2 separate regions of the Homo sapiens genome follow, and region 1 is linked to region 2. The links come from fine-mapping of genetic effects on gene expression. A gene starts in region 2. The other region holds a variant in brackets. All regions are shown on one strand. Distances are between the middles of the regions.

Region 1 (10,693 bases), 46 kb after region 2:
ACCTGTAATCCCAGCTATCAAGAGGCCGAGGCAGGAGAATCGCTTGAACCCGGGAGGTGGAAGTTGCGGTGAGCCGAGATCGTGCCACTGCACTCCAGCATGGGCAACAAGGGCGAAACTCCATCTCAAAAAAAGAAAAAAAAAAGGCCGGGCACGGTGGCTCACTCCTGTAATCCCAGCACTTTGGGAGGCCAAGGCGGGCGGATCATAAGGTCAGGAGATCGAGACTAGCCTGGCTAACACGGTGAAACCCCATCTCTACTAAAAAATACAAAAAAAAATTAGCTGGGCATGATGGCGGGCGCCTGTAGTCCCAGCTATTTGGGAGGCTGAGGCAGGAGAATGGCGTGAACCCGGGAGGTGGAACTTGCAGTGAGCCGAGATTGTGCCACTGCACTTCAGCCTCGGCGACAGAGCGAGACTCCGTTTCAAAAAAAAAAAAAAAAAAAGAAGAAAGGCAATGAGAACTTGAGAAAAATACAATGATATTGTGATTACACAGATTTAGTACTGACTAATAGGCAAAAACACAGAGGAACTTAAGAGCTGAATAAACAAAGTTGATTTAATAATCATTTATGAGGCCGGTGGCTCACACCTGTAATCCTAGCACTTTGGGAGGCTGAGGTGGGCGGATCGCATAAGGTCAGGAGTTCAAGACCAGCCTGACCAACATAGAGAAACCCCGTCTCTACTAAAAATACAAAAATTAGCTGGGCATGGTGGTGGGCGCCTGTAATCCCAGCTACTCCGGAGGCTGAGGCAGGAGAATTCCTTGAACCCGAGAGGCAGAGGTTGCAGAGAACCAAGATCGTGCCATTGCATTCCAGCTGGGCAACAAGAGTGAAACTCCCTCTTAGAAAAAAAAAAGAAAAAAGAAAAAAGAAAAAAATATATACATAAATACATGACCTAAAAACTCATCTTAAGAAAAAAATAAAAACTAAAAGCTAAAAGAGATAAAGCTGAAATTAGTAAACTAGGAGATAAAAATAGTAAAAAGGATGAATAAATCTGAAAGCTGGTTTTTTTTTAAAAAGGATAATAAACTCCTTAAAAATCTCACTAAGGAGACAGGAAAAAAATGTTTAAGATTGGGAATAAGAAAGGAGACAATCATAAATAAATTAGAAATGAAAAATAATTGTAAGAGAATACTGCGTACAACTTGATGGCAACACATTTTTTTATTTTATTTCTTTTGAGACAGTCTCACTCTGTCGCCCAATCTGGAGTGCAGTGATGCGATCTTGGCTCACTTCAACCGCTGCCTCCTGGGCTCAAGTTATTCTTGTGCCTCAGCCTCCCAAGTAGCTGGGCTTATAGGCGCACACCACTATGCCTGGCTAACTTTTTTATTTTTAGTAGAGATGGGGTTTCACCATGTTAGCCTGGCTGGTCTTGAACTCCTGGCCTCAAATGATCCAGCTGCCTCGGCCTCCCAAAGTGTTCTGATTATAGGCGTGAGCCACCGTGGCCAGCCAAACCTCTTTTTTTTTCTTTTTCTTTTTTTTTTTGTGGGGGGAGGCGGGGAATAGAGTCTCGTTTTGTCACCCAGGCTGGAGTGCAGTGGCGTGATCTCGGCTCACTGCAACCTCCACCTCCCAGGTTTAAGCGATTCTCCTGCCTCAGCCTCCCAAGTAGCTGGGACTACAGGGGCATGCTACCATGCCCTGCTAATTTTTGTATTTTTAGTAGAGATGGGGTTTGGCCATGTTGGCCAGGCTGGTCTCGAACTCCTGACTTCAGGTGATCCACCTGCCTCGGTGGATCCCAAAATGCTGAGATTACAGGCTTGAGCCACCCCGCCTGGCCTAAACCTCTTTTCTGTATTAATTACCCAGTCTCAGGTATTTCTTTATAGCAATGTGGGAATGAACTAATACACATCACAAAAGAGACCTGAAAGGTGATTAAAGATCCACCTTTAGATAATAAAAAGAACAGAACCTAATAGCTTTCTAACTATGTTCCATTTAACCTTTAAAGAACACACAGGTCCATAGTTATTTGACCTATTACAGTTATTTGATCCAATCGAAAATTGAGAAGCTCCCCAATTCATTTTATGCTGCTGACATAATTTTAAAACCAAACCTTGAAAAATGTAGTACCAAGAAAGAACTATAGACCAACTTTACTAATGAACAGAGGCAAACATTCCAAATAAAACATTAGCAACTGGAATGCAGTACACAAGAGTTGTTCCCGAAACACCAGGGGTTCGGTCTAGGTCCTACTGTTCACAGCACAGAAAGCCAGTGACTGAGACTATGAGTATTGCTAGAAGAAGGCTTTAACTGGGTGCTGCAGCTGAGGAGATAGAAGCTTGGTCTCAAATCCATCTCCCTGACCAGCTAAAATTTGGGGTTTATATATCAGGGAAGAAATGTAACTATCTATGAGAAAACAGAAACTCAGAAGGGTAAGGAAGCAATCATGATGAATTGGGGGCCTGGAGTCTCATTGTCTGGAGGAGATGATCTGGTGAGTTTCAGTTCTTTGATACGTTTTGAGAGGACTGGAGATCCTTTCTTGAGGAAGAAACTCAGATAAAACAAATGTTAAGTTTCCGGCAGGGCGCGGTGGCTCATGCCTGTAATTCCAGCACTTTGGGAGGCCAAGGTGGGCGGATCACGAGGTCAGGAGATCGAGACCATCCTGGCTAACATGGTGAAACCTCATCGCTACTAAAAATACAAAAAATTAGCCGGGTATGGTGGCAGGTGCCTGTAGTCCCAGCTACTCGGGAGGCTGAGGCAGAAGAATGGCATGAACCCGGGAGGCGGAGCTTGCAGTGATCCGAGATTGCACCACTGCACTCTAGCCTGGGCGACACAGCCAGACTCCATCTCAAAACAAACAAACAAACAAACAAACAAAACAAATGTAAGTTTCAAGCTTTTGGATCAGAAGGGTCAATTTCTATGTTTATCCAAAAACAACTGTCTATGGGACTATTGGGTTGGTTTCACAGTCACACCAGCTTACCATATCATTTAGGGGCCCAGGCAGATTCAAGTCCACAAGGTGACCAAACTGGCTCATTCCAAATGTATGAGGGTGGCTAGACTATCAGGAAGCATATCAACATAATTCATAAATTCCATGAATTGGCCGGGCTCTGTGGCTCACGCCTGTAATCCCAGCACTTTGGGAGGCCAAGGAGAGTGGATCGCCTGAGGTCAGGAGTTCAAGACCAGCCTGTCCAACACGGTGAAACTCTGTCTCTACTAAAAATACAAAAATTAGTCAGGCATGGTGGCGGGCGCCTGTAATCCCAGCTACTGGGGAGGCTGAGGCAGGAGAATCTCGAACCTGGGAGGCGGAGGTTGCAATCAGCTGAGATTGCGCCATTGCACTCCAGTCTGGGCAACACAAGCGAAACTCTGCCTCGAAAATAAATAAATAAATAAATATATTCCATGAATTAAAGAAGAAAGACCTTAAGATTATATCAATAGATGCTGAAAAGGCTTTAATAACATTCAATAGCCTTTCCTCTTCTTCTCTGTCTTTTTCTTTTTTTTTTCAGGGATCAGGTCTTGCTCTATTGCCAGGCTGGAGTGCAATGGTAGAATCGTAGCTCACGGGAGTCTCTAACTCCTGGACTCATGTGATTCTCCCTTCTCGGCCTCATGAGTAGCTGGGACTACAGGAGCTAGGACTGGCTAATTTAAAAAAAAAGTATTTTTATGGAGACAGTCTCGCTATATTTCCCAGGCTGGTCTCAAACTCCTGGTCTCAAGGGATTGTCCCACCTCAGCCTCCTAAAGCATTGAGATTCCAGGTGTGAGCCACTGCACCCAGCTGTACCAGTCTCAAGAATGTTCAGTTTACTCTAATCACATGTCAAAAGCATGTTTACCCTATTATTTAGGGGCACAGGCAAATACAAGTCCTCTAATGTACTTGAGAACCACAGTTATGAAAAAATATAATGAAAAGAAAAAAAAATGTAATGTTAAAAAATTAAGGCCAGGTGTGGTGGCTCACACCTGTAATCCCAGCACTTTGGGAGGCCAAGGCGGACAGATCACCTGATGTCAGGAGTTTGAGACCAGCCTGTCCAACGTGGCAAACCCTGTCTCTACTAAAAATTTAAAAATTAGCCAGGTGTAGTGGCGTGCGCCTGTAGTCCCAGCTATTCAGGAGGCTGAGGCAGGAGGATCACTTGAACCCAGGAGGTGGAGGTTGCAGTGAGCAAAGATGGCACCAGCTGCATTCCAGCCTGGGTGACAGAGCGAGACTCTATCTCAAAAAAAAAAAAAAAAAAAGAAATTAAGAGAGGTGGGGTGCAGTGATTCATACCTGTAATCCCAGCACTTTTGGGAGGTCAAGGCAGGAGGATCACTTGAGCCCAGAAGTTTTTAGTTTTTGTT[T/G]TTGTTTTTTTTTTAGATGGAATCTCGCTCTGTCACCCAGGCTGGAGTGCAGTGGCACTGATCTCGGCTCACTGCAAGCTCCGCCTCCCAGGTTCATGCCATTCTCCTGCCTCAGCCTCCCGAGTAGCTGGGACTACAGGCGCCCGCCACCAAGCCCGGGTAATTTTTTGTATTTTTAGTAGAGACGGGGTTTCACCATGTTAGCCAGGATGGTCTCCATCTCCTGACCTCATGATCTGCCTGCCTTGGCCTCCCAAAGTGCTGGGATTAGAGGTGTGAACCACCGTTCCTGGCCTGAGCCCAAGAGTTTGACACCAGCCTGGGCACCATAGGGAGACCCCAAGAGACAGAGACAAAAAGGGAGTCAGAGAGAGGAAGAGACAGACAGAGAGAGACAAAGAAGTCAAAGAGAAAGAGAGATGGAAGTAGTAAAGAAAAAACAGTGTACCCTATTCCTTTAAAAGCCAGGGTAAATTTAAAACCTATAATTGATAATTGAAGGTCTTCTCCGTGACCCTGTACCACTCCAATACCACCTTGTTGGCAGTGCAAACAAGGGCATAGCCTGAAAGCACTGAGGCCACTGACAACCCATAGCCTTCCTGTCAAAGATCCTTAACCCAGCAGGTTTCCTAACAGGGGATCTAAATCTTAATTAATTGCCATACAAAAGTCCAACCAGATCTAGGAGGAACTCCCTTCAGGACAGGATGATAGATGGTTCCTCCCAGGCAATTAAGGGAAAAAAAAAAGACACAGTGGGTATTCAGTAAGTGATAAGGGAACTCTTGTAGAAGCAGTTAGGAAAATTGCCTAATTATTGGTCTGCTCAAACGTGTGAGTTGTTTGCACTCAGCCAAATCTTAAAGTACTTACAGAATTAGGAAGGAGCCATCTATACCAATTCTAAGTTAATATGGACTGAACGAGGTTTTATTAATAGCAAAGGAAAATTAAAATCCCAAATTTACAACGTTTTTAACTAAAGTAAAGTTTGCTAAAAGTTAACAGTGTAACATGCATTATCCTACTACCACATACTCTCAAAGGATTTCTCAGACAGTTTGCAAGAAATAGCAAAATCTACCAGGCGTGGTGGCTCACGCCTGTAATCCCAGCACTTTGGGAGGCCGAGGTGGGCGGATCACTAGGTCAGGAGATCGAGACCATCCTGGCTAACACGGTGAAACCCTGTCTCTACTAAAAATACAAAAAATTAGCCGGGCGAAGTGGCAGGCGCCTGTAGTCCCAGCTACTCGGGAGGCTGAGGCAGGAGAATGGCGTGAACCCGGGAGGGGGAGGTTGCAGTGAGCCGAGCTAGTGCCACTGCAGTCCAGCCTGGGTAAAAGAGCGAGACTCCGTCTCAAAAAAAAAAAAAAAAAAAAAAAAGAAATAGCAAAATCTATCCAGTAAGGATAGTAACTACAATCCCAAATAGACTCTTTGGCAGCAGTGACTCTCCAAAACTGCCGAGGCCTAGACCTCCTCACTGCTGAGAAAGGAGGACTTTGTACCTTCTTAGGGGAAGAGTGTTGCTTTTACACTAACCTGTCAGGGATAGTACTAGATGCCACCCAGCGTTTACAGGAAAAGTCTTCTGAAATCAGACGATGCCTTTCAAACTCTTATACCAACCTCTGGAGTTGGGCAACCTGGCTTCTCCCCTCTCTATGTCCCGTGACAGCCGTCTTGCTATTACTTGCCTTCGGGCCCTGTATTTTTAACCTCCTTGTCAAATTTGTTTCCTCTAGGATCGAGGCCATCAAGCTACAGATGGTCTTACAAATAGAACCCCAAATGAGCTCAACTAACAACTTCTATCAAGGACCGCTGGACCGATCCACTGGCCCTTTGGCCTAAAGCATTCCCCTCTGGAGGACACTACAACTGCAGGGCCCCTTCTTTGCCCCTATCCAGCAGGAAGTAGCTAGAACGGTCATCGCCCAATTCCCAACAGTAGTTGGGGTATCCTGTTTAAAGGGGGGATTGAGAGGTGAAGCCAGCTGGGCTTCTGGGTCGGGTGGGGACTTGGAGAACTTTTCTGTCTAGCTACAGGATTGTAAACACACCAGTCAGTGCTCTGTGTCTAGCTAAAGGTTTGTAAATGCACCAATCAGCACTATGTAAAAACGCACCTATCAGCACTCTGTGTCTAGCTAAAGATTTGTAAATGCACCAATCAGCACTCTCTAAAAATGGACCAATCAGCACGCCATAAAATGGACCAATTAGCACTCTGTAGAATGGACTGATCAGCAGGATGTGGGTGGGGCCAAATAAGGGACTAAAAGCTGCCACCCAAGATGGCAGCCGCAACCCACTCGGGTCCCCTTCCACACTGTGGAAGCTTTGTTCTTTCACTCTTCACAATAAATCTTGCTGCTCCTCACTCTTTGAGGAGGAGCACCACCTTTAAGAGCTGTAACACTCATTGCGAAGGTCTGCAGCTTCACTCCTGAAGTCAGTGAGACCACAAACCCACCGGGAGGAACAAACAACTGCGGACATGCCACCTTTAAGGGCTGTAACACTCACCGGGAGGGTCTGTGGCTTCACTCCTGAAGTCAGCAAGACCACAAACCCACCGGAAGGAACCAATTCCAGACACACCTGTCACTAAAAAAAAAAAAAAAAAAAAAAAAAAAAAAAATTCTCAATAATATAAAATACCCAGGGCCCGGTGTGGTGGGACTTCCTGTAGTCCCAGCTACTTAGGAAGCGGATGCAGGATTGTTTGAGCATAGAAGTTCAAGGCCAGCCTGGTAACACAGTGAGACTCTGTCTCTAAAAAAAGATTTTTAAATTTTTTATCCTAAAAAATTTTTCATAGGCCAGGCATGGTGGCTCATGCCTGTAATCCCAGCACTTTGGGAGACTGAGGTGGGTGGATCACGAGGTCAAGAGACCAAGACCATCCTGGCCAACATGGTGAAACCCTGTCTCTACTAAAAATACAAAAATTAGCTGGGCGTGGTGGCACGTGCTGGTAGTCCCAGCTACTCGGGAGGCTGAGGCAGGAGAATCACTTGAACCCAAGAGGCGGAGGTTGCAGTGAGCTGAGATCGTGCTACTGCACTCCAGCCTAGAGCGAGACTCCGTCTCAAAAAAAAAATTTTTTTTTGTAGAGACGGCCTCCCTCTCTCACCCAGCCTGGAGTGCTGTGGTGCAATCTTGACTCCCTGAAGCCTTGAACTGCGGAGCTCAAGTTTTCCTCCCACCTCAGCCTCCTGAGTAGCTGAGACTACAGGCAAATGTCACCATGACTGGCTAATTAAAACAACTTTTTTTTTTGCTCATGCCTGTAATCCCAACACTTTGGGAGGCCGAGGTGGCTGAATCACTTGAGCCCGGGAGCCTGGGCAACATGGTGAAACTTTATCTCTACAAAAAATACAAAAATAAGCCAGGCGTAGTGGCATGAGCCTATAGTGCTAGCTACTTGGGAGGCTGAGGTGGGAGGATCACTTGAGACCAGGAGGCAGGTTGCAGTAAGCTGAGATCTCGCCACTGCACTCCAGTCTGGCTGACAGAGCCAAAATAAATAAATAAAAACAAAACAAAAAAATAAGACAAAACTGTAGAGACAGGATCTGGCTATGTTGCCCAGGCTGGTCTCCAACTCCTGGCCTCAAGCAATCCTCCTGCCTCAGCAGCCCCCAAAGTGCTGGGATTACAAGTGTTAGCCACCATGCCTGGTAAAAAGTTTTTTCAAATACCTATAAATAAGCTGAACAAAGTCACAGGATGTATATGAAGAATATAATAAAAATGTTACTGAACAACATAAAGTTCAAAGCTAGACAAGTAGAAAGTTATTTGTTCTTGGATAAGAAAACTTAACGTTGTAACAACAAAAATATTTAAAAATACTTATATTTAATGCAATTCCAATTAGAATTCTGGCAGGCAGGTTTTTTGTTTGTTTGTTTGAGACGGAGTCTCGGTTTGTCACCTAGGCTGGAGTGCAGTGGTGCAATCTCGGCTCACTGCAACCTCTGCCTCTGTTCAAGCAATTCTCCTGCCTCAGCCTCCCAAGTAGCTGGGATTACAGGCATCCACCACCATGCCCAGCTAATTTTTGTATTTTTAGTAGAGATGGGGTTTCTCCATGTTGGCTAGGCTGGTCTCGAACTCCTGACCTTGAACTCCTGATCTCAAGTGATCCACCTGCCTCGGCTTACCAAAGTGCTGGGATTACAAGCGTGAGCCACCGCACCTGGCCAGGCAGGCAGTTTTTAAGAAATCATTAAAATAACCTTAAATCCATATGGAAGAATTTATACCCTAGAATAAACTAGGAAAGTATGAACATGGAGTACAGTGAAGGGGAACTACTTGCTTAACCAGATACCAGAACATCCACAAACCTACTTTAATCAAATTAGTATAATATTGGCATAGGAATAGAATACTGGAAAAGAATAGAAAATCTAGAGGCTGGGCACAGTGGCTCACGCCCGTAATCCCAGCACTTTGGGAGGCCAAGGCGGGTGGATCACTTGAGGTCAGGAGTTTGAGACCAGCCTGGCCAACAGGGTGAAACCCTGTCTCTACCAAAAAATACAAAAATTAGCCGGGCGTGGTGGCATGTCTGTAATGCCAGCTACTCGGGAGGCTGAGGCAGGAGAATCCCTTGAATCTGGGAGGCAGAGGTTGCAGTGAGCTGAGATTGTGCCACTGAACTCCAGCCTGGGCAACAGAATGAGACCCTGTCTCAAAAAAAAAAAAGAAAAAGAAAAAAAGAAAAAAAAAAAGAAAATCTAGAACTAGATCCCAGTATGGAAGAGAGTTCAGCATATGACAATAGTGTTATTTGTTACAGCCAGGCAAAAAAAAATGGTTCATTTAGTAAATGATATTGAACTGTTTCTCTATATGAAAGAAAAATAATTATGAAAGATAATTTGACCCCTATGTCATACCATTTCAAAAGATGGTTTAGACCAGGTGCGGTGGCTCATGCCTGTAATCCCAGCACTTTGGGAGGCCAAGGTGAGCAGATCACCTGAGGTCAGGAGTTCGAGACCAGCCTGACCAACATGGTGAAACCCTGTCTCTAATAAAAATACAAAAATTAGCTGGATGTGGTGGTGCACGCCTGTAGTTCCAGCTACTTGGGAGGCTGAGGCCTGAGGATGGCTTGAACCAGGGAGACGGAGGTTGCAGTGAGCTGAGAGCACGCCATTGCATTCCAGCCTGGGCAACAGAGGGAGACTCAGTTTCAAAACAAAAAAAAAAGATGGTTTAAACTTTTACATTTAAATGAAAACATAAAATTAAAGAACAAAAATCTTAGAATAAAATAGAAGAGACCACATGTACAATGTAGGTATGAAATAGACCTTCTTAACCACAGCAGCAAACCCAGCTGTTATAAAAGAAAGAACTTCAGGGCTGGGCGTGGTGGCTCACGCTTGTAATCCCAGCACTTTGGGAGGCCGAGGCCAGTGGATTACCTTTGGTCAGGAGTTTGAGACCATCCTGGCCAACATGAGGAAACCCCGTCTCTACTAAAAATACAAAAATTAGCCAGGCATGGTGGCGTGTGCCTGTTGTCCCAGCTACTTGGGAGGCTGAGGCAGGAGAATCGCTTGAACCTGGGAGATGGAGGTTGTGATGAGCCAAGATCATGACACTGCACTCCAGCCAGGGCAACAGAGCGAGACTCTGCCTCAAATAAAAAAAAAAAAAAAAAAAAAGAACTTGAGTTAACCCTTGAGCAACACAGGTTTCAACTGCATGGATCAACTTGAGATTTTTAAAAAATAAACATATTGGAAAATTTTTTAGACATTTGTGACAATTTGAAAAAACTTACAGATGAACAAGTTTAGAAATATCAAAAAAATAAGAAAATGTGGGTATGTCATGAATGCATAAAATGTGTCCAAACTAGCCTACTTTATCATTTACTATCATAAAATATACAAAAATCTATTATAAAAAGGTAAAATGTATCAAAACTTACAGATACAAATTAATCGGGAAAAGTTCCCTTGTCCCCCTTCACAGGGTGTGGGCTGGGGGTGTGGCTCACTTCTTCCATGCCCCGCTGTTCAAACCTCTAGGGGAACGTACAGACGGGGAGGCTGCGGGACTCCAACCCCACAGCAGTGTCTAGGGGTGAATATTTACAGCTGAAGCCCCAGTGGGCTTGTGTTACAGGGTGCTTTTTTAGTTTGTCATCTATAGGCGGCTTGTGTTAACCAGCTCAGTTAGACCCTCTACCTGGTTGCAAGGACAGAGGGCTTTCTGTATCCCAGGGTTTCTTGCCTTGGTGTACCAAAAGAATCAGATCACACATGGGCTTG
Region 2 (10,693 bases):
GTGCACTCCTGTAGTCCCAGCTACTTGGGAGGCTGAAGTGGAAGAATCACCTGAACCCAAGTTGAATCTGCAGTGAGCTGTGAACACGCTACCGCACTCCAGCCTGGGCGACGGGAGTGAGACGCTGTCTCAAAACATAAATTAAAATTAATCAACCAACAACAAATGAGTGGTGGCAGAACCAGCATCAGAACCTGACTCTCCTAACTCCCAATCCAATGTTCTTTCCACCTTACTACAATGCCTCCTGTTGGTATCAATTTATCAAAATCTTTTTTTTATTTTCTTTTTTTTTTTTCTTGAGACAGAGTCTCGCTCTGTCGCCCAGGCTGGAGTGCAGTGGCACAATCTCGACTCACTGCAAGCTCTGCCTCCCGGGTTCATGCCATTCTCCTGCCTCAGCCTCCTGCCTCAGCCTCCCGAGTAGCTGGGACTATAGGCGCCAGCCACTACACCCAGCTAATTTTTTTGTATTTTTAGTACAGACGGGGTTTCACCATGTTGGTCAGGCTGGTCTCGAACTCCTGACCTTGTGATCCGCCTGCCTCGGCCTCCCAAAGTGCTGGGATTACAGGAGTGAGCTACTGTGCCGGGCCATCTTTTTTTTTTTTTTCTTGAGACGGAGTCTCGCTCTGTCGCCCAGGCTGGAGTGCAGTGGTGTGTTCTCAGCTCACTGGAACCTCTGCCTCTCAGTTTCAGGCGATTCTCTTGCCTCACCCTCCTGAGTAGCTGAGATTACATGCCCCTGTCACCATGCCTAGGTAATTTTTGTATTTTTAGTAGAGACGGGGTTTCACCATGTTGGCCAGGCTGGTCTTGAACTCCTGACCTCAGGTGATCCGCCCACCTTGGCCTCCCAAAGTGCTGGGATCACAGGCATGAGCCACTGCATGGGATTTTTTTAAATTTGTTTTTTTGGTTTTTTTTTTAGAGGCAGAGTCTCGCTCTGTCGCCCAGGCTGGAGTGCGGTGGCACGATCTCGGCTCCATGCAACCTCCGCCTCCCGGGTTCAAGCAATTCTTCTGCCTCAGCCTCCCGAGCAGCTGGGACTATAGGCACCCACCACCATGCCCTGCTAATTTTTGTATTTTTAGTAGAGACAGGGTTTCACCATCTTGGCCAGGCTGGTCTCAAACTCCTGACCTCGTGATACACCCGCCTCAGCCTCCCAAAGTCCTGGGATTACAGGCGTGAGCCACCGTGCCTGGCCAACTCATTCAACTTTTGAGGAGGTGAACACTAAGCTGTTAACATCCCTTTTCCACTGCATCGTTGTTCACGCTCATGTACAGCAATCTCATTAACACCTCCATCTTCTTCAGAGTGGAATGAATCCAAAGATGTTGAATGTAATGGATTTGCAAGGTTAAACCTCTTTTCCAATGAGGATTCAATGGATTTGAACATATTTTCACCCAAAGATTTTCAAGGGTCAACATCCAAAACTAGTTGATATTCTCTGCTTCACAGCCAACTGAAAAAATGGGTATACACACACATGCAATTTCTAACCTGGTGGCTAAAGCAGGGTAAAATACTAAGGAAAATTTGGGAGAAGAGAAAGAATGCTGAGGAACAATGGACCATCCTCATATCTGAAGGCATTTAATTTCCTCATCATGGTACCAAAGTAGGAAAGGTATTTCACCAGAAAAGCTTTGCCAATTCACATTTGGCAAGCCACTGCTCAATGACCCACTAAAAACACTTAAGAGTAATCCCAGAGGAGGCCAGGCACGGTGGCTCATGCCTGTGATCCCACTACTTTGGGAGGCTGAGGGGGGCGGATCACCTGAGGTCTGGAGTTCAAGACCAGCCTGGCCAGCATGGTGAAATCCCGTTTCTACTAAAAATACAAAAATTAGCCAGGCGTGGTGGCAGGTGCCTATAATCCCAGCTACTCGGGAGGCTGAGGTACGCGAATCGCCTGAACCTGGGAGGCAGAGGCTACAGTGAGACGAGGTGGCGCCATCACACACCAGCCTAGGGGACAAGAGTGAGACTTCGTCTCAAAAAAAAAAAAAAAGAGTCCCAAAGGAACAAGAAAGTAATTCAGCTTCCACCTCCATCATTTCCTTACCGTTTTCTGCCGAAGCAAACACTCTACGAAATCATCATATTCTATCTTGCACTCTTTCTCTGCCCGAGTATAACCGATTCCATGTGCACATTCTATCCATTCTTTTTCAAAAGCATGGCATCGACCAGCCATCTTGTAGGGCTGTTCACCACTCTGGATTGTCAACCATCGATCTATGTTAAGGCCGAACCTTTTCTGGATGTCCAAGAAAGGCATGGCTGTAATGGAAGATTTAAAAAAATAAGTAAATAAAATACCACAAGAGGGCAATCAACTGAGAAATTTCTAAGAAAAAATTAGATAATCATGCTAAGTAGCCCTCTAGAACACTGTTTGATATTATTCTCCTGATTTCTTCTCACCAAACTTTTTCATTAAATAGGTTCTTCCAGTTTATGGCAGATAAGCAGTTTTTGCGCTTTTTCAAAACTCAAGGAAAAGAGAACTATAACTAAAGAACAATGCATAGAAATCCTTTCTCGGTCAGGAGCGGTGGCTCACCTACCACGTGAGATGGAGTCTCCGTCTGTTACCCAGGCTGCAGCGCATGGTGCAATCTTGGCTCACTGCAACCTCCTCCTCCAGGGTTCAAGCGATTCTCCTGCCTCAGCCTCCCAAGTAGCTGGGACTACAGGTGCGCACCACCACGCCCAGCTAATTTTTGTATTTTTAGTAGAGATGGGGTTTCAGCATGTTGGCGAGGCTGGTCTTGAACTCCTGACCTCAGGTGATCCGCCCGCCTTGGCCTCCCAAAGTGCTGGGATTACAGGTGTGAGCCACTGCACCTGGCCTAAATTTTTTTTTTAAATCAGCCACTTGTGGGCCAGGCGCGGTGGCTCATGCCTGTAATCCCAGAACTTTGGGAGGCCAAGGCGGGTGGATTACCTGAGGTCAGGAGTTCAAGACCAGCCTGGCCAATATGGTGAAATCCCGTCTCTACTAAAAATACAAAAAAATTAGCTGGGCGTGTTGGCACATGCCTGTAATCCCAACTATTCGGGAGGCTGAGACAGGAGAACTGCTTGAACTGGGGAGACAGAGGTTGCAATAAGCCAAGATCCGCCATTGTACTCCAGCCTGGGCGACAGAGCGAGACTCTGTCTCAAAAAAAAAAAAAAAAAAAAAAGAAGAAGAAGAAAAAAAGAATTTGGATCCTTTGGTCAGGTTCTCTGTCTCAAAAAAAAAAAAAAAAAAAAAAAAAGGCACTTGTGGTGGTATGTGCGCCTGTAGTCCCAGCTACTCCTAAGGCTGAGGCAGGAGACTGAGGCCAGGAGTTCAAGGCTTCAGTGAGCTATGACCTGGCCACTGCACTCCATCCTGGGCAACAAAGCGAGATCCTGTCTCAAAAAAAAAAAAAAACCAGAGCGAAAGAAATGGGTTAAGACTTACTTTGTAGACTATTACAGACAGTAGGGAAAAAAATTTACATGCAAATACATAATAATGTTAAATGTAAAAACACACACACAAAAACAAACCCTGACTGCCTAAAATGACTGAAAGGAAGCGCGCGCACACCCACAAATATCAATATAAATGTGTACTCATGGTAGATTTAAAGGTGAATTTAGTTGGGCGCAGTGGCTCACGCCTGTAATTCCAGCACCTTGGGAGGCCGAGGCGGGCGGATCACCTGAGGCCGCGAGTTCAAGACCAGCCTGACCAACATGGCGAAACCCTCTCTCTACTAAAAAAATACAAAATTAGCCGGGCGTGGGGGCGCATGCCTGTAATCCCAGCTACTCGGGAGTCTCAGGGAGGAGAATCGCTTGAATCCGGGAGGCAGAGGCTGCAGTGAGCCGAGATCGCGCCACTCTGCACTCCAGCCTGGGCAACAAGAGCGAAACTCCATCTCAACAAAAAGGTGAATTTAACTTCTTAAGTTCCTTCCCATCCCTCAGTCATCATTTACTGAGTAGTTACGTTCCAGGCACTCAGATGCGGGGGAAAGCAGCTCCAACGTAAGCACCAGAGACACACACTCGGAATTGCGAATACACTGCAAGGAACACGAGTGGGTAAGAGCTCGAAGGAGGAAGCACGAACTCTGCCCGGAGACTTGAAAATGCCTTTAACATGGCTTGCGAGTTCGCCAAGTGAAGATCAGTGGGCAGAGTGTTCCAGTTGGGCAACAGCCCGGAGTTACAGCCGGAAGTGCTGGCTATGTTTGGGGGACAATGGAGCGCAGCGTGCATGACGGTGAAAAGAATGAAATGAGCTCAGGAGGCCGGCGGGGCCGAAATCACGCAGAGCCTGGAAAGCTGGGATAAGGATCGTAGACTTTAGGTTAAGAAACAGAAAGCCAAAACATTAGTCCGGCAAAAACCTAAACAAATGTGGAAAGTGGAGAGAGCGGCAATCTCCAGGCTTCGGTGCCATTAGCTGTGGAGGTGAAGCGGCCTGGGAGGGCAGGGAACACGCCCTGAGTTCAGGTCTGGGAGAAGGGGACACACAGCAAGCCAAGAGGAAATCTGTTAAAGAGACCTCGGAAGGAAGGTCCTTAAGCTAAGCTGCCGCGCGGACATAAGCAGCCCCTACCTACCCGATGCTCGTGCCCTTGACTCTTCTCTGGCCGCCGCTTCAGAACGACTAGCTAGCGACGCGGACGCCTGCCGTAAAGGATGACCTCAGCGAGACGTTTGCAGCGCGACGCCGGAAGCCGACCTTCCCTCAGCCGTCTCCCCACAAAACCATAGAAACCGAGCCCGTTGGCCTGGTACGGTGGCTGACGTCTGCAATCCCAGCACCTTGGAAGGCTGAGGGAGGAAGATCACTTCAGCCCAGGAGTTCGAAAACAGCCTGGGCAACATGGCGAAACTCCCCTCTCTACAAAAAATAAAAAATTAGCCGGGCGAGGTGGTGCATGCCTGTGGTTCCAGCTACTCAGGAGGTTGAGGTGGGAGGATCCCTTGAGCCCAGGAGATTGAGGCTGTAGTGAGCCATGATCACACCATTCCATTGCATTCCAGCCCTGGCAACAGAGCAAGACCTTATCTCAGGGGGAGAGTGAGAGAGAGAGGATGAAGAAGAGAGAGAGGAGGTAGAGAGAGAGAAAGGAAAAAAAACCCAAACCCATCAATTACAGAGACACAGGGAAGGCCTAGCCATTAGTGAGTTCTTGCTCCTTTCTTGCACTCTGCCTAGCATGCTCACGACAACACTGAGTGGTGAGAGACTTCACCAAAGTCACAGGAGAGAAAGAACACTGGCTCCCTGCCTACCCACTAGTGGTTAAGCACATGGACTATGAGCCCAAACCACCACGTGGGGTCAAATGTAGGCCCCCAGCCGGGCGCAGTGGCTCAGGCCTGTAATCCCAGCACTATGGGAGGCCGAGGTGGGCGGATCACAAGCTCAGGAGATCGAGACCATCCTGGCCAATATGGTGAAACCCTGTCTCTACTAAAAATACAAAAATTAGCTGGGTGTGGCAGCGAGTGCCTGTAATCCCAGCTAGTGGGGGGAGGCCGAGGCAGGAGAATCGCTTGAATCCGGGAGGCGGAGGTTGCAGTGAGGTGAGATCGCGCCACTGGACTCCAGCCTGGCGACAGAGCTAGATTCAGTCTCAAAAAAAAAAAAAAAAAAAAAAAAAAAAAAAAAAAAAAGTAGGCCCCCACCAATTTCGTGTGACTCTAGGAAAGTTTCTTAACTTCATTGTGCCTCAGTCTCCTCGTCTGTTAAGATAATTATGGTATTCACAATGGAGGCTTGCTATAGGGATTAACTGATTTATGTATAAAGCACTGAGGCGGTGGCTAGCACATGGGAAACATTCCAAGGCAGTCGCAGTTCTTTGATGTCTCAGCTTTCAGTTTGTGAATCAACTGCTACCATGCCTGTCATCTGTTCCAGAACCTCCAATGACTCCCTTTGACTACATCAGAGACTCTAAAGTGTTGTGTGTATGTCTTTGGGGGGTGGACCACAGGGTGCATGAGATATTATACATTGGAGGTATGGGAGGAAAATACTAGAACATATATATATATATATATATATATATATATATATATATATATATAAATATATATATATATAATTATTACTTTTGAGACAGATTCTCACTCCCATTGCCCCGCTGGAGTGCAGTGGTGCAATCACAGTTCACTGCAGCCTCAACCTCCCTGGGCTCTGGTGATCCTCCCACCTCAGCCTCCCAAATAGCTGGGACCACATGTGCATGCCACCATGTGCCTGGCAGTCTTTATTATAATTATTATTTTATTTGAGATAGGGTCTCACTCCATCACCCAGGCTGGAGTGCAGTAGTGCTATCATAGATCACTGCAGCCTCAAACTCCAGGGCTCAAGCAATCCTCCTGCTTAGCCTCCCAAGTAGCTGGGACTACAGACATGCCACTGTGCCCAGCTAATTCTTTTTTTTTTTTTTTTTTTGAGACAGAGCTTCACTCTGTCACCAGGCTGAAATGCAGTGGTGCAATCTTGGCTCACTGCAACCTCCACCTCCCAGGTTCAAGCGATTCTCCTGCCTCAGCCTCCTGAATAGCTGGGACTACAGGTGTGCGCCACCACTCCCAGCTGATTTTTGTATTTTTTTTTAGTAGAGACGAGGTTTCACCATATTGGCTAGGATGGTCTAGATCTGTTGACTTCGTGATCTGCCCGCCTCAGCCTCCCAAAGTGCTGGGATTACAGGCGTGAACCACTGCGCCCGGCCAAGCTAATTCTTTAAAAAAATTTTTTGTGGAGATCAGTATCTCTTTATGTTTCCCAGGCTGGTCTCCAGCTCCTGGGCTCAAGTGATCCTCCTGCCTGGGCCTCCCAATGTGCTGAGATTACAGGCATGAGCCACCATGCCTGGCCCTTTTATACATTTTTTTTTAACACTCTGAGAGAGAGTTGAGGGCAGGCTGCTTGTAAGGATAAGGCAGCCTCTTTTATACATTATTAACCTAAGAAAAAATGGGGTGCCCTTGAAAGAGTTTTTTAAGATTAGAAAACAAGGGCCAGGTGCAGTGGCTAATGCCTGTAATCCCAGCATTTTGGGAGGCTGAGGCAGGCAGATCACCTGAGTTCAGGAGTTCAAGACCAGCCTGACCAACATGGTGATACCCTGTCTCTACTAAAAATACAAAAAATTAGCCAGGTGTGGTGGCAGGCACCTGTAATCCCAGCTACTTAGGAGGCTGAGGCAGGAGCATCGCTTGAACTGGAGAGGCAGAGGTTGCAGGGAGCCGAGATCGCACCATTGCACTCCAGCCTGGGCAACAAAAGCAAAACTCTGTCTCCAAAAAAAAAAAAAAAAAAGGCAAAAGGAAGTCAGAAGGAGCCAGATCAGTACTGTAAGGTGGATGCCTAATGATTTCCCATCAAAACTCTTGCAAAATTGCCCTTGTTTGCTGAGAGAAATGAGCAGGAACATTGTTATAGCGGAGAATGACTCTGGTGAAGCTTTCCCAGGCATTTTTCTGCTAAAACTTTTGCTAGTTTTCTCAAAACACTCTCATAATAAGCAGATGTTATTGTTCTTTGGCCCTCCAGAAAGTCAATAAACAAAATGCCTTGAACATTAAAAAAAAAAAAACGAATGACATGACCTTTGCTCTTGACTGGTCCACTTTTGCTTTGACCAGACACTTCCACCTCTTGGTAGCCATTGCTTTGATTGTGCATTGTCTTTAGGATTGTACTGGTAAAGCCATGTTTCATCTCCTATTACAATTCTTCAAAGAAATGCTTCAGGATCTTCATCCTGCTTGTTTAAAATTCCCATTGAAAGCTCTGCAGCTGATCTGGGCATGATGGTTTGGCACCTGCCAAGTGGAATGTTTGCTCAACTTTAGTTTTTCAGTCAGAATTATGTAAGCCGAACCAAGTGAGATGCCTATGGTATTGATTATTATTTCTGCTGTTGTCAATCCACTTCAGTTAGGACACAAAATGTTTTTCTCATAAATTGATGTGGATGGTCTGCCACTGTGGGTTTCATCTTCAACATCATTTCATCCCTTCTTTATTTTGTTTCTTTTTGGAGATGGAGTCTTGCTCTGTCGCCCAGGCTGGAGTGCAATGGCGTGGTCTCGGCTCACTGCAACCTCCGCCTCTTGGGTTCAAGCAGTTCTCCTGCCTCAGCCTTCCCAGGTAGCTGGGATTATAAGAGCCCACCACAATGCCCAGCTAATTTTTGTATTTTTGGTGGAGACGGGGTTTCACCATGTTGGCCAGGCTGGTCTTGAACTCCTGACCTCAGGTGATTCGCCTGCCTCAGCATCTCAAAGTGCTGAGATTACAGGCATGAGCCACCACGCCTGGCCAAGTATTCTTAAAGAAAATAAATACTAGGAGTCTGTAGTAGAGGCACAGCCCGGCCTAATCTCATCCCTTCTTAAAACAAATTATCTGGCCACGTGCGGTGGCTCATGCTTGTAATCCCAGCACTTTGGGAGGCCGAGGCAGGTGTATCACCTGAGGTCAGGAGTTCAAGACCAGCCTGGCCAACATGGCAAAACCCCATCTCTACTAAAAATACAAAAATTAGCCGGGCGTGGTGGCAGGCGCCTGTAATCCCAGCTACCCAGGGAGGCTGAGGCAGGAGAATCACTGGAACGTGGGAGGCAGAGGCTGCAGCGAGCCTAGATCATGCCACTGCACTCCAGCCTGGGTGACAGAGTGAGACTCCCTCTCAAAAAACAACAACAAAAAACAATTTATCTATTTGTAAACTGCTGATTTCTTTGAGGCATTGTCCCCATAAGCTTTTCGTAAAGCTTCAATGATCTCACCATTCTTCCACCCAAGCTTAACCATAAACTTGATATTTGTTCTTGCTTCAATTTTAGCAGAATTCATGTTACTCTTATAGGGGCTCTTTTCAAACTAATGTCTTATCCTTCATAGTGCCTCAAAGTAGATCCTGCTCAGACATGTTATAACAAGTTAGTACAAATTTATTTTGGTGCAAAAATTTTTTGAAATCTATGCATAGTTTTTTCATAATACACATTTTTCATAAACTTTGTGAAGACCTCTTGTATGTCCAGCTGAATACTGCAGGATTATATAACTGGTAACTCATGGCCCTTGCCCACAAAGTGCTAGTGGCGAGTTATCACTACCTTTTCCAGTCCCCTGCCCCTTTTCTTGTTTGTTGATGGTGTCATCTTCCCAGCCACTTAGGCAGCAAACTCTGGAGTTGTATTCTGCCTTTTCCTTTTCTTTCATTTAGTATTTAATTACAGCACAAGTTCTGTCAAATATTCCTTCAACAAATTTCCAATTTATCTCTTCCTTCTTGTCTCCCAACTCCTCACTCCAATCTGTTCTGCATGACTGGTCATCCTAAAATACAGATTTCATCATATCATTCCTCAGAAATACCATGCAGGGTTAAGCATGATGGCTCATGCCTGTAATCCCAGCACTTTAGGAGACTGAAGTGGATTGCTTGAGCCCAGGAGTTCGAGACCAGCCTGAGCAACATAGTGAGATCTTGTCAATACAACAACAACAAAAAAAATTAAAAAAAAATTAGCTGGGCATGGTGGTGTGTTGCTTGTAGTCCCAGCTACTCAGGAGGCTGAGGCAGGAGGATCACTTGAGCCCAAAAGGTTGAGGCTGCAGTGAGCCATGATTGAGCTACTGAACTCCAGGCTGCAGTAAGCCATGATTGAGCTACTGAACTCCAGTCTGGGTGACAGAGCAAGACCCTGTCAAAAAGAGAGAGAGACAGAGAGACAGAGAGAATGGAAGGAAGGAGGGAGGGAGGGAGGGAGGGAAGGAAGGAAGGAAGGAAGGAAGGGAGGGAGGGAGGGAGGGAGGGAGGCTGGGTGTGGTGGCTCACACCTGTAATCCCAACACTTTGGGAAGGCAAGGTGGGTGGATCACCTGAGGTCAGGAGTTTGAAACCAGCCTGGCCAACTTGGTGAAGCCCCGTCTCTACTAAAAATATAAAAATTTGCTGGGCATGGTGGCAGGTGCCTGTAATCCCAAATACTTGGGAGGCTGAGGCAGGAGAATCACTTGAACCTGGGAGGCGGAAATTGCAGCAAGTCAAGATCACGCCATTGCACTCCAGCCTGGGCAATGGAGTGGGACTCTGTCTCAAAACAAACAAAAACAAAACAAAGACAAAAAACCACAAAAACAAACAAAAAAAACTCAACACCTTTTACAATAGCTGCAAAAAATAAAATAAAATATTTAGGAATATACCTAACCAAGGAGGCAAAAGACCTCTACAAGGAAAATTACAAAACACTGCTGAAAGAAATGATAGATGACACAAACAAATGGAAACACATCCCATGTTCATGGATGGGTAGAAATCAATATTGTGAAAATGACCATACTGCCAAAAGCAATCTACAAATTCAACGCAATCCCCATCAAAATACCACCACCATTCTTCACAGAATTAGAAAAAACAATTCTAAAAAAAAAAATTATAAAATTTATATGGAACCAAAAAAGAGCTTGCATAGCCAAAGCAAGGCTAAGCAAAAAGAACAAATCTGGAGGCATCACATTACCTGATTTTAAACTATACTATAAGGCCATAGTCACAAAACAGCATAGTACTGATATAAAAATAGGCACATAGGCCGGGTGCAGTGGCTCACACCTGTAATCCTAGCACTTTGGGAGGCTGAGACA

What was found.
Region 1: its variant is fine-mapped to the expression of NDUFS5 in whole blood (INTERVAL, PIP 0.90).

Annotation. Positions count from the first base shown.
Region 1 is chr1:38,973,986-38,984,678 of GRCh38, reverse strand. No RefSeq gene overlaps it. Among named protein-coding and RNA genes, the nearest start is that of AKIRIN1, 12 kb to the left of the region's middle. The variant T/G (reference allele first, on the strand shown) is at 4,383.
Region 2 is chr1:39,020,328-39,031,020 of GRCh38, reverse strand. NDUFS5 (NADH:ubiquinone oxidoreductase subunit S5) reads right to left here and starts at 4,671. Exons shown (of 3, transcript NM_004552.3): 1 at 4,619-4,671; 2 at 2,081-2,298. The coding sequence starts at 2,296. RefSeq lists a silencer at 2,622-2,787 and enhancers at 3,558-4,143, 4,144-4,730, 4,590-4,839, 10,620-10,693.